Regions from separate parts of the Homo sapiens genome. Here all the other regions are linked to region 1. Evidence: fine-mapped expression QTL. A gene starts in region 1. Each other region holds a variant in brackets. All regions are shown on one strand. Distances are between the middles of the regions. Region 1 holds the start of STAP1 (signal transducing adaptor family member 1). Region 2 overlaps STAP1 (signal transducing adaptor family member 1). Region 3 overlaps STAP1 (signal transducing adaptor family member 1).

Region 1 (2,772 bases):
GGCAAGTAGCAAGTAGTATACTCTCTATCTTATAGTTGAAACAGTCTCAAGGAGATTGAGTAACTTGCACAAGATCACAAGCTATAAGTGGCAAAACCATCAGATAAAGGACACTCTAAAATTCTTATTCTTTCTGCTAACCATACCAATGACATGTCTTCTTTAAGCATTTAAAAAAAACTGCTATCATAAACAGTTATTATAAATACCTTGGAAAACATTCAATGAACAACCTGATTTAAATTACTAATTAGAATTTTTTTTTCTCAACTTCCCTTTCCTGGCAAAGTGTGACTATGTGGCTTACCTGTGGTGACAAGATTGAATTTACATTAAAAGCATATAGGATCAATCTAAAAAATTCTAATATAACTGAAAGGTAATTATTTATGCATGTTTAACATCCATAACAGAATACAAATTACCATGTCTTTACTCTCAAATAGTAAATGATCTGATTATATATGTAAGAAATGTGAATATGCTATTATAGATTTTTCATATATATAATTTTTCCACAAGTATTCATAAATCCTCAGAAAATATATTTTAGCATCATTAAACATTTCTGATGGAATTTCTGAAAACCTTAAAATTTTTCTAGTTTTAGTCAGTATACAATTTCATAAAATTTGACCTAACTTAATGATTTTTTTATTTAATAACAGGCAATTTTGGGCTTATTTCTCTAATTAATTTCAAGTCATCCATAATTACTGTTTTAAAAGTAATGATTTTAACTAACTATAAGTTTTAATTATTACATTTAAAAATACAGAATGCTTCATGGATTTTCTTAGAGCAAAGGTATTTATGTAGCTTAGTGTACTTAATACCCACAGTAGTACCCCAAAAATTAAAAGTCACTATCTTGAATAGTATTTTAGAACACATAACTATATATAATGTTAAACAGTATGAACTTTGTCATTTTAACAATTTTTACAAAAGCCATTTTTAATAATTTGATCATTATAAACTTCAAATGACTCAGAACAGGAGCAGGTTTAATTTTAATCATGATATCATTTTATCTTAATGGTACATGTCATCATTGAAGCATAGCAATAAATTGTGGAGAAAATACAAGAAACATTTTATCTCCCAAGCCAAAATCTTTTGTGATATTTAAATAAATTCTTTGGAAATTTAGCTTATTGACTTTTTTATATTAGTGCCTTAATATTACAACCTCTGTTATTATACATATTATATATGTGTATACATACAGGTTTAAGCCAGACATTGTATTTAAATTATGAAAAATTGGAATCATTTTTCTGAGCTCAAAGAAGAGAAGATGATTTAATTTCAACAGAAACAAGGAGGTCTTAACACATCACATCACCATGAAATAAATATTAAATTAAAACAGAAGTCTTAGGTTTAACATTATCATCTATAGACTCACCCGGTATCCTGACCGCTTGATTAATAAAAAACCTTCAAAGTACAAAGGTAGAGCAGTAATCTTTAACCTTTCCTGGAAGATCCTGCGAGGGGCTGGTTTTGGGGGCTTCTTAGCCATCATACCCCTCTCTTTGGTGTGTGGTTTGGTTTCTCGTCTCAAACAAAATGAAATCTTCCTTCTGTGAGAGGAAAAGGCAACTGTTCAAAGAGGAAGTCCCAAATTGCTTTTTAACCACCAACACTACCACCAACAGGACACACACACACACAGACGCACACACACACACACACACTTTTTTTTCCATTACTTTTTGTGAGGTAAGAAAGAACAGGTGTAGACTGACTTTCAGAGGGCAATCTCTGGGTAATCCACATGTGCTTAGATTTAAAGCGCAAAATAAACAGAAGATTAACATCACCAGAAGATGAAAGAAACAGGTGTAGAGATTGTGAACTTTAGGGGAGATATCAAGAACACAGTTATTCTTTCTATCTTTGTTTTTGTTTATTGGTGTCCATTTTTATTTGCAGAAGACATGACTTGAATAAACTCAGCTTCATTAAAAATTACTTCATAGAATAATTTTATTAGTACTACTTCTGTTGGTTAAATATTTTAGGGTCAAGTTTTGTGTAAATAAAAAAAATAGTTGTATCTCATGCTCATTTGATGCTTCACTAAATATAAACCACAATTATGGGAACACGGAATATGGAATTTTTTTCTTTTTTCTTTCTTTCTTTTTTTTTTTTTTTTGCCAGTAGATATTCCAAGTACATGAGTTCCCAATGAATATTTAGTGCTATGTTTTGAATGTGTCCTCCAAAACTTATGTGTTAGAAACTTAATCCCCAATGCAACAGTGTTTAGAAATGGGACTTTTAGAAGGTGATTAAGTCATGAGGCCTCTGCCCTCATGAATGAATGAATTAATTAATGCTGTGGGAGTGGGTTTCTTTCTCTTTTTTCAGAGGCAGGGTCTTGCTCTGTTGCCCAGGCTGGAATACACTGGTGCAATCACAGCTCACTGCAGCCTTGACCTCTCAGGCTCAAACAATCCTCACACATCAGCCTCCTAAGTAGCTGGGACTACAAGGCACGCGCCACCACTCCTAGCTAACTTTTTCATTTTTTGTATAGACAGTATCTCCCTATGTTGCCCAGGTTGGTCTCAAACTCTTGGGCTCAAGCGATTCTCCTGCTGTGGCCTCCCAAAGTGCTGGGATTACATGTGTGAGCCATTGCACCTGGCCTGGAAGTGGGTTTTTTATAAAATCAAGTTTGGCACTTTCTCACATGCTATCATCCTCTCTTGCTCTTCTATCTTCTGCCATGGAATGATGCTGCATGAAGGTCCTCAT
Region 2 (2,772 bases), 48 kb before region 1:
AATACTCAATACATTTCAATAAATACTTAACATTAATGCTCAGGCTTTATGTCCCAATTTTTTTTTTAGACAAAAAGTAAACATTGGGTCATATTTATTATACACTTTTTTGTCAGGTTTAAACTAAAATACAATCTCATTTGAAATTTAATAAAGTATTTTCACACTCCAGAAATTAAAAGATCAAAATGACATAGAGAAAAGCATTTCTCAATGTTTTCATTTGTCATATTTATGATTCCTTATTAATTGTCACTGCCTCTCCATTTAAAAGAAAGCCTGACTTGATTTTGCATATATTGCTACACAGATTATTTATCTTCATATTATAGTAGATCTTAAAGAACTGGTTCTCAAATTTGTTATGTATAGCAATTACCTGTGTTGTATGCTTAAAAGGCAGATTTCTGGACCAGCCTCAGCGCCGCCCCCCCACCCCCAAAATTATAATTCAGTAAGTCTGAGAGAACTCTTCATATTTTCAGGCATCCCAGGAAGCTCACTGAATTAGTTCGGTAGGATTGTCATTACAAATACCACAGACCATGTGGATTAAGGAACACAAATTTATTTTCTCACAAGTCAAGAAGCCGGATTTTCAAGGTTTTGGCCAGGTTGATCTTTTTTTCCCCCCGAGGCCTCTCTCCTTGAGTTGTCAATGGCTGTTTTCTCCCTCTGTCTCACATAGTCTTTCCCCTGTAGAATATAGACCATATCTTTTCATTCTTAGTTGATTGTGTGATTCCCAAATTGATAACCATCAAAATCAATTTAGAAGTTTGCTTTTGAAGAAAAAAATTATGAAAAAATATCCCTGTTATTTTGATTCAGTAGATGCAGTCTGGGGCTGATGGTTCCATATTTTTAAGAACTCCAGGTACTTATAATCAGGCTCATCGTACTTACGACAAGATGATGATACAGCCTTTCACCATCTTTGTAAGGAAATAATGGGCTGATTTTGAGTGGCAAAAAGATGACACCAGGGAAAAACATGGGAATG[A/G]AGACATTTATTTCCATTAACAAAAAATGTGGTATATAATATTTCCATTGGAAAAGGGCTCCTCTAGTACATTTCATGTCTCTAACTTCCAGCTAGGTAATTAAAATGACATATTTGATAAATTGGTCAAATCAGATTTCAGCAAAACTTAGGTTTTTTGGGAATTGGTAAAATTTAGAACTAGAGAAACTGCTGTTGGAATTATATAGGGGAAATGTATTTCATTGAGGCCTAAAGAAAAAAATTCCATCTAGAAAGTACTATGTGTTTTCAACTTATGTCAGTGCATGGGAATGTGTATATCTGCAGGTTACCACCACAGCCGTAGTCTCTAGTTTCCCTGTGAATTGGTTTCATTCTGATAAGATAATGAAATTGTATGGTACAATGTTTAATTCTAATTCTGGTGTTCAGGTGAATGACTTGGTAATCAGTATCAGGAGAATATAGGTAATTCTCTTTAAAAGTAAGAACTTCGTTTTGAAAATATAAATTACCAAGATATACAAAGGAGCTTTCACATTGTATTTCATGCAATGTGTGGATTTTTCTTCAACTTTTCACTTCTCCCTTCCATACTGGGTTCTTGACCTAGAAATTGTGGGTAGAAAAACTTAATTAGCGAACCAATATTGTAGAAAACGGTGGTTCTTTATTTTCAGTGAGTTGATTTTCCTGCTCGTGTGTGGAACATTGCTGGTGTGTTTAGTAATTGTTAGGAAAATAAATACTGAATATTCAGATGCTTTTTTAAATTTTATTTTATCCTGGACCTGTAACTTTGTACCTAATAATTTTTTTCTTCCTCTTTAGCTTAATAGGCCTTATATTTTGAAGCGGCTTTTAGTTTAAACTGCTAATTTCTGGAGTTGGGAAATATCTTTGACCATTCTTGTTCCATTATTGCTCTTGTCTTCTGGTGTAAGAGAGAGCCAAATGCTGACATGGGTTAACAGGGATCAAAAAAATCTTATTTTCTTTTAGATAATATTTTATTACATATTAGCTTTTTCCAAATCTCCAGATTGGAACCCTTACCTGCTCTACAACTCCCATTTCCCAAGTTTGATGTACTAGCAGTCTCACTGTGCCACAGCCAGCTATGAGTCCAAATTCCTGAAGCAATGTTAGGGTTCCACAAAGTTTTCTTAAAATATCAGCATTATTTGTCAAGATAAGTTTTTATCTTTGTGTAGCTTTTCTTAAAAAGTCCTATTTTCATTGTCATGTACTTTTCCATCATTTTTCTGCTTTTGAAAGAAAATACGTTACACTACAGATAATATTCTAATTATTTAAAGTCTTTCTTCACAGGACCCTCTAATTCCATCTGTTCTTATGTCATTCCCCAGTCCCTATAACAAAGGCATCTGAAATGCAGGGGGAGGCTGAGTAGTTTGTTCCCGACCACAAAGCAAACTGAACACATTCAGTCATATACCAATAGCAATCTGGTTGTCTGTTTCTAAAATCCTTAAGGTGCTTTTTTTTTTTTTTTGTATTGTCTATTTTTTCTTCCCTGGCCCTGCCCTGAGGGTGGGGCCCCTAGTCAAGGTGCAGTACTTTGGCAGTGACAGCATGGGCACCTAAAACCCCAAGAGAAAATTTAGCCTTCCAGCCAGAGAAATCAGGAAAGGTGGGCAGAGGGGAGAATTGGAATTACATTTTTCTCTTTCTTATCTCTAACTTTCTTGGAGAGATTGGGCAACTGCAGTCTCACAGAACTGCAATTACAGCACAGGTGTCATTAATAAGCTCCATCATTCTAG
Region 3 (2,772 bases), 22 kb before region 1:
TTAAACATTTTACACAAGGCCTTTGTCAAAGTACAAGCTTGATGACTACTGACTAATTGGTCAGTTGAATAGAACATTCTAGGTATTGAAAATTTATTGGTATAATTTTCTGAGAGAAAATCAGTCAATCATAGAGTTTGCATAGTGAAAAAATATCTTTTCCTGCCTTCTTCATGGGAGTTTTTATTTAGGCGTGAGCTCTGGAAAGAGTATCTATTTGTTCTAAAGATGTGGGTGGAAGGGGATTTCCTGTGTGGTAAGATGGTTGGTTCAAATCTGCATTTTGTTGATCATGACATAGAAGAGGAAATATGGCATGTACGCAGAGATATACAGTTTATCCCCAAGACTGCTTATTGTCCCTGGCTTAACAAGAGCAAGTGACTAACTCTCCTTTATAATTAGAAATTAGTTTTAACAATCGAATGAATAAACTGCAGTTCATTGTGCACTTACGCTGGCATAGGGTTCAGTACATCCACATAATCTTCAGTTGGTTCCTTCTCTTTTTCCACGGACGTACTCTGCTCTGTCTCAATCCTCCTTTTCTTTTCTCTCTCTAGGACTTCATGCAGTTTAATTACTTGCCCAGGTAGGAGTGACACGTTTTGGGGAACTGACAGCTGAAACCAATTAAAAGAGTAGGCAGGCAAGAAAACAGCTTAATAACTTATAACTTTAGTAAAGACGACCCTGTTCTGGTCCTATAGGGCTACAGTTACCTGACAGAGGTGAATGAGTAGGGACTAAGGGAATAAGAAACAGAGGATTTTAGTCTAGGTTGGGTGTTTCAGAACCGCCTCTGCACCAACTACAACCTGCACAGAGTGCCTACCCTTCTGCCAAGGAATCATCCTTTTGGTTTGGCCCCAAAGCAAAGAACACCCCGCCTTGCACTAAAAGCTAATTCAAGTAACAACAAACCTCATATTTTTCATTCTGAGCTCACTAGTTCATCAATGCCAGGGATTTTCCAGAACACCTTCAAGGTACCTCACTCTCTCATAAGTTATCTGAAAAGATTTCCCCCAGCCATATGGCAACATGGGATTCAGATGGAACTGTTCATTAGGTGACTGAAGAGCAGCAGTCAGAGGTCGAAATTTTGCGTCTGTGGTGTGTTTCAAACATTCATTCACATGTTAGAATTATGATACTTTTCTACTTATTAGTTGGTTTTGTGGTGGTTGTTACCTTTCCTAGAGATGTATTTCAGATTGACTCACCTATATATGTCCTTCTGATTTATATTCATACCTGCAATTTTGACCTCATTATGACCAGCTCTGTGCTCTTAGAAGGTATAGTGTGAATGGTAAGATATTTTTTGTACGTGACCCTAGCAAGTCTTTATTTGGAGGCAGCCTTGTGTGATTATCACCTTTATCTTCAGAGAAGAGTGCATGCTTTCCAGGAGGTATACAAGAAAGTCCATTAGAGTATGGGAAGAAAACATTATAACTTCACTTTCTATTAAGTTACTATTTCACTAATTTCTATTATTATATATGTTTTAATATGCGTACAAGTACATATAAAATTTACACAAACATTTACTAATACAGATACACAATAAAAAAGGCTTAGAGACATTTTAGATAACTAAGATAATAACCAGTAAAACAATTTCCATATATACCAGAAAAAAAT[G/A]AAATAATGGGGGAAAATACCTAATGAAACACATATCTTTATTAATTGACTATTATAGCTCAAGCATTGTACATGTTTTATTGCAACTCCTCACAGAAATGCTAGAAAGTATTGTTATACGGGAGGGCGCAGTGGCTCATGCCTGTAATCCCAGCACTTTGGGAGGCCAAGGTGGGTGGATCACTTGAGGTCAAGAGTTCAAGATCAGCCTGGCTAACATTATGAAACCCGTTTCTAATAAAAATACAAAAATTTTGGGTGGCATGTGCCTGTAATCCCAGATACTTGGGAGGCTGAGGCAGGACGATTGCTTAAACCTGGGAGGCGGAATTTGCAGTGAGCCGGGATCAAGCCACTGCACTCCAGCCTGGGTGACAGAGCAAGACTCCATCTCAAAAAAAAAATGGTATTGTTATCCCCAATTTACAAATGGTGACATAGTTTGGATATGTGTTCCCACCAAAGCTCATGTTAAATTAGCCCCAGTGTTGGAGGTGGGGCCTGGTGGGAGGTGTTTGGGTCATGGGGATGAATCTCTCATGGCTTGGTGCTTTTCTCATGTTAGTGGGTGAATTCTTGTGAGATCTAGTCATTTAAAAGTGTGTGGTCCCTCTTCCCCACTCTTTCTCTTTCCTACTCTCACCATGTGATATGTCTGTTCCCCCTTCACCTTCTGCCATGAGTAAAAGCTCCTTGAGGCCCTTCCCAGAAGCTGAGCAGATGCTGGCACCATGCTTCCTGTACAGCCTGCAGAACCAGGAGCCAATTAAACCTCTTTTCTTTACAAATTACCCAGTCTTAGGTATTTCTTTATAGCAATGCAAGAATGGCCTAATACAAATAGAAAAAAAAATCAAGCACAGAAAGATTAAATAGCTAGTCCAGAGTCAAATAGCTAGTAAGTTATGGAACCAGGACCCAAACTGGGGTTTATTTGATTCAAAAGCAATGTCTCAGCTCTTTCAACTACATACAGTCTGAGCTTCTCTCACTTCTCTACTAAAGTCATCCTAATAACAACATACTGTAAATGTTCATATACCATGATCTGGAATCATAACACAAAACAACATTTACAGAATACACAATTTGAGGCAACTTGTCTTCTCTTAAAAATTCACA

What was found. PIP is the estimated chance that this variant, and not a neighbour inherited with it, causes the effect.
Region 2: its variant is fine-mapped to the expression of STAP1 in whole blood (TOPMed, PIP above 0.99).
Region 3: its variant is fine-mapped to the expression of STAP1 in whole blood (INTERVAL, PIP 0.93).

Annotation. Positions count from the first base shown.
Region 1 is chr4:67,557,569-67,560,340 of GRCh38, reverse strand. STAP1 (signal transducing adaptor family member 1) reads right to left here and starts at 1,614. Exons shown (of 9, transcript NM_012108.4): 1 at 1,412-1,614. The coding sequence starts at 1,531.
Region 2 is chr4:67,605,118-67,607,889 of GRCh38, reverse strand. STAP1 (signal transducing adaptor family member 1) reads right to left here. Exons shown (of 9, transcript NM_012108.4): 9 at 553-1,594. The coding sequence ends at 1,533. Among named protein-coding and RNA genes, the nearest start is that of STAP1, 48 kb to the right of the region's middle. The variant A/G (reference allele first, on the strand shown) is at 1,004.
Region 3 is chr4:67,579,156-67,581,927 of GRCh38, reverse strand. STAP1 (signal transducing adaptor family member 1) reads right to left here. Exons shown (of 9, transcript NM_012108.4): 5 at 457-623. Among named protein-coding and RNA genes, the nearest start is that of STAP1, 22 kb to the right of the region's middle. The variant G/A (reference allele first, on the strand shown) is at 1,651.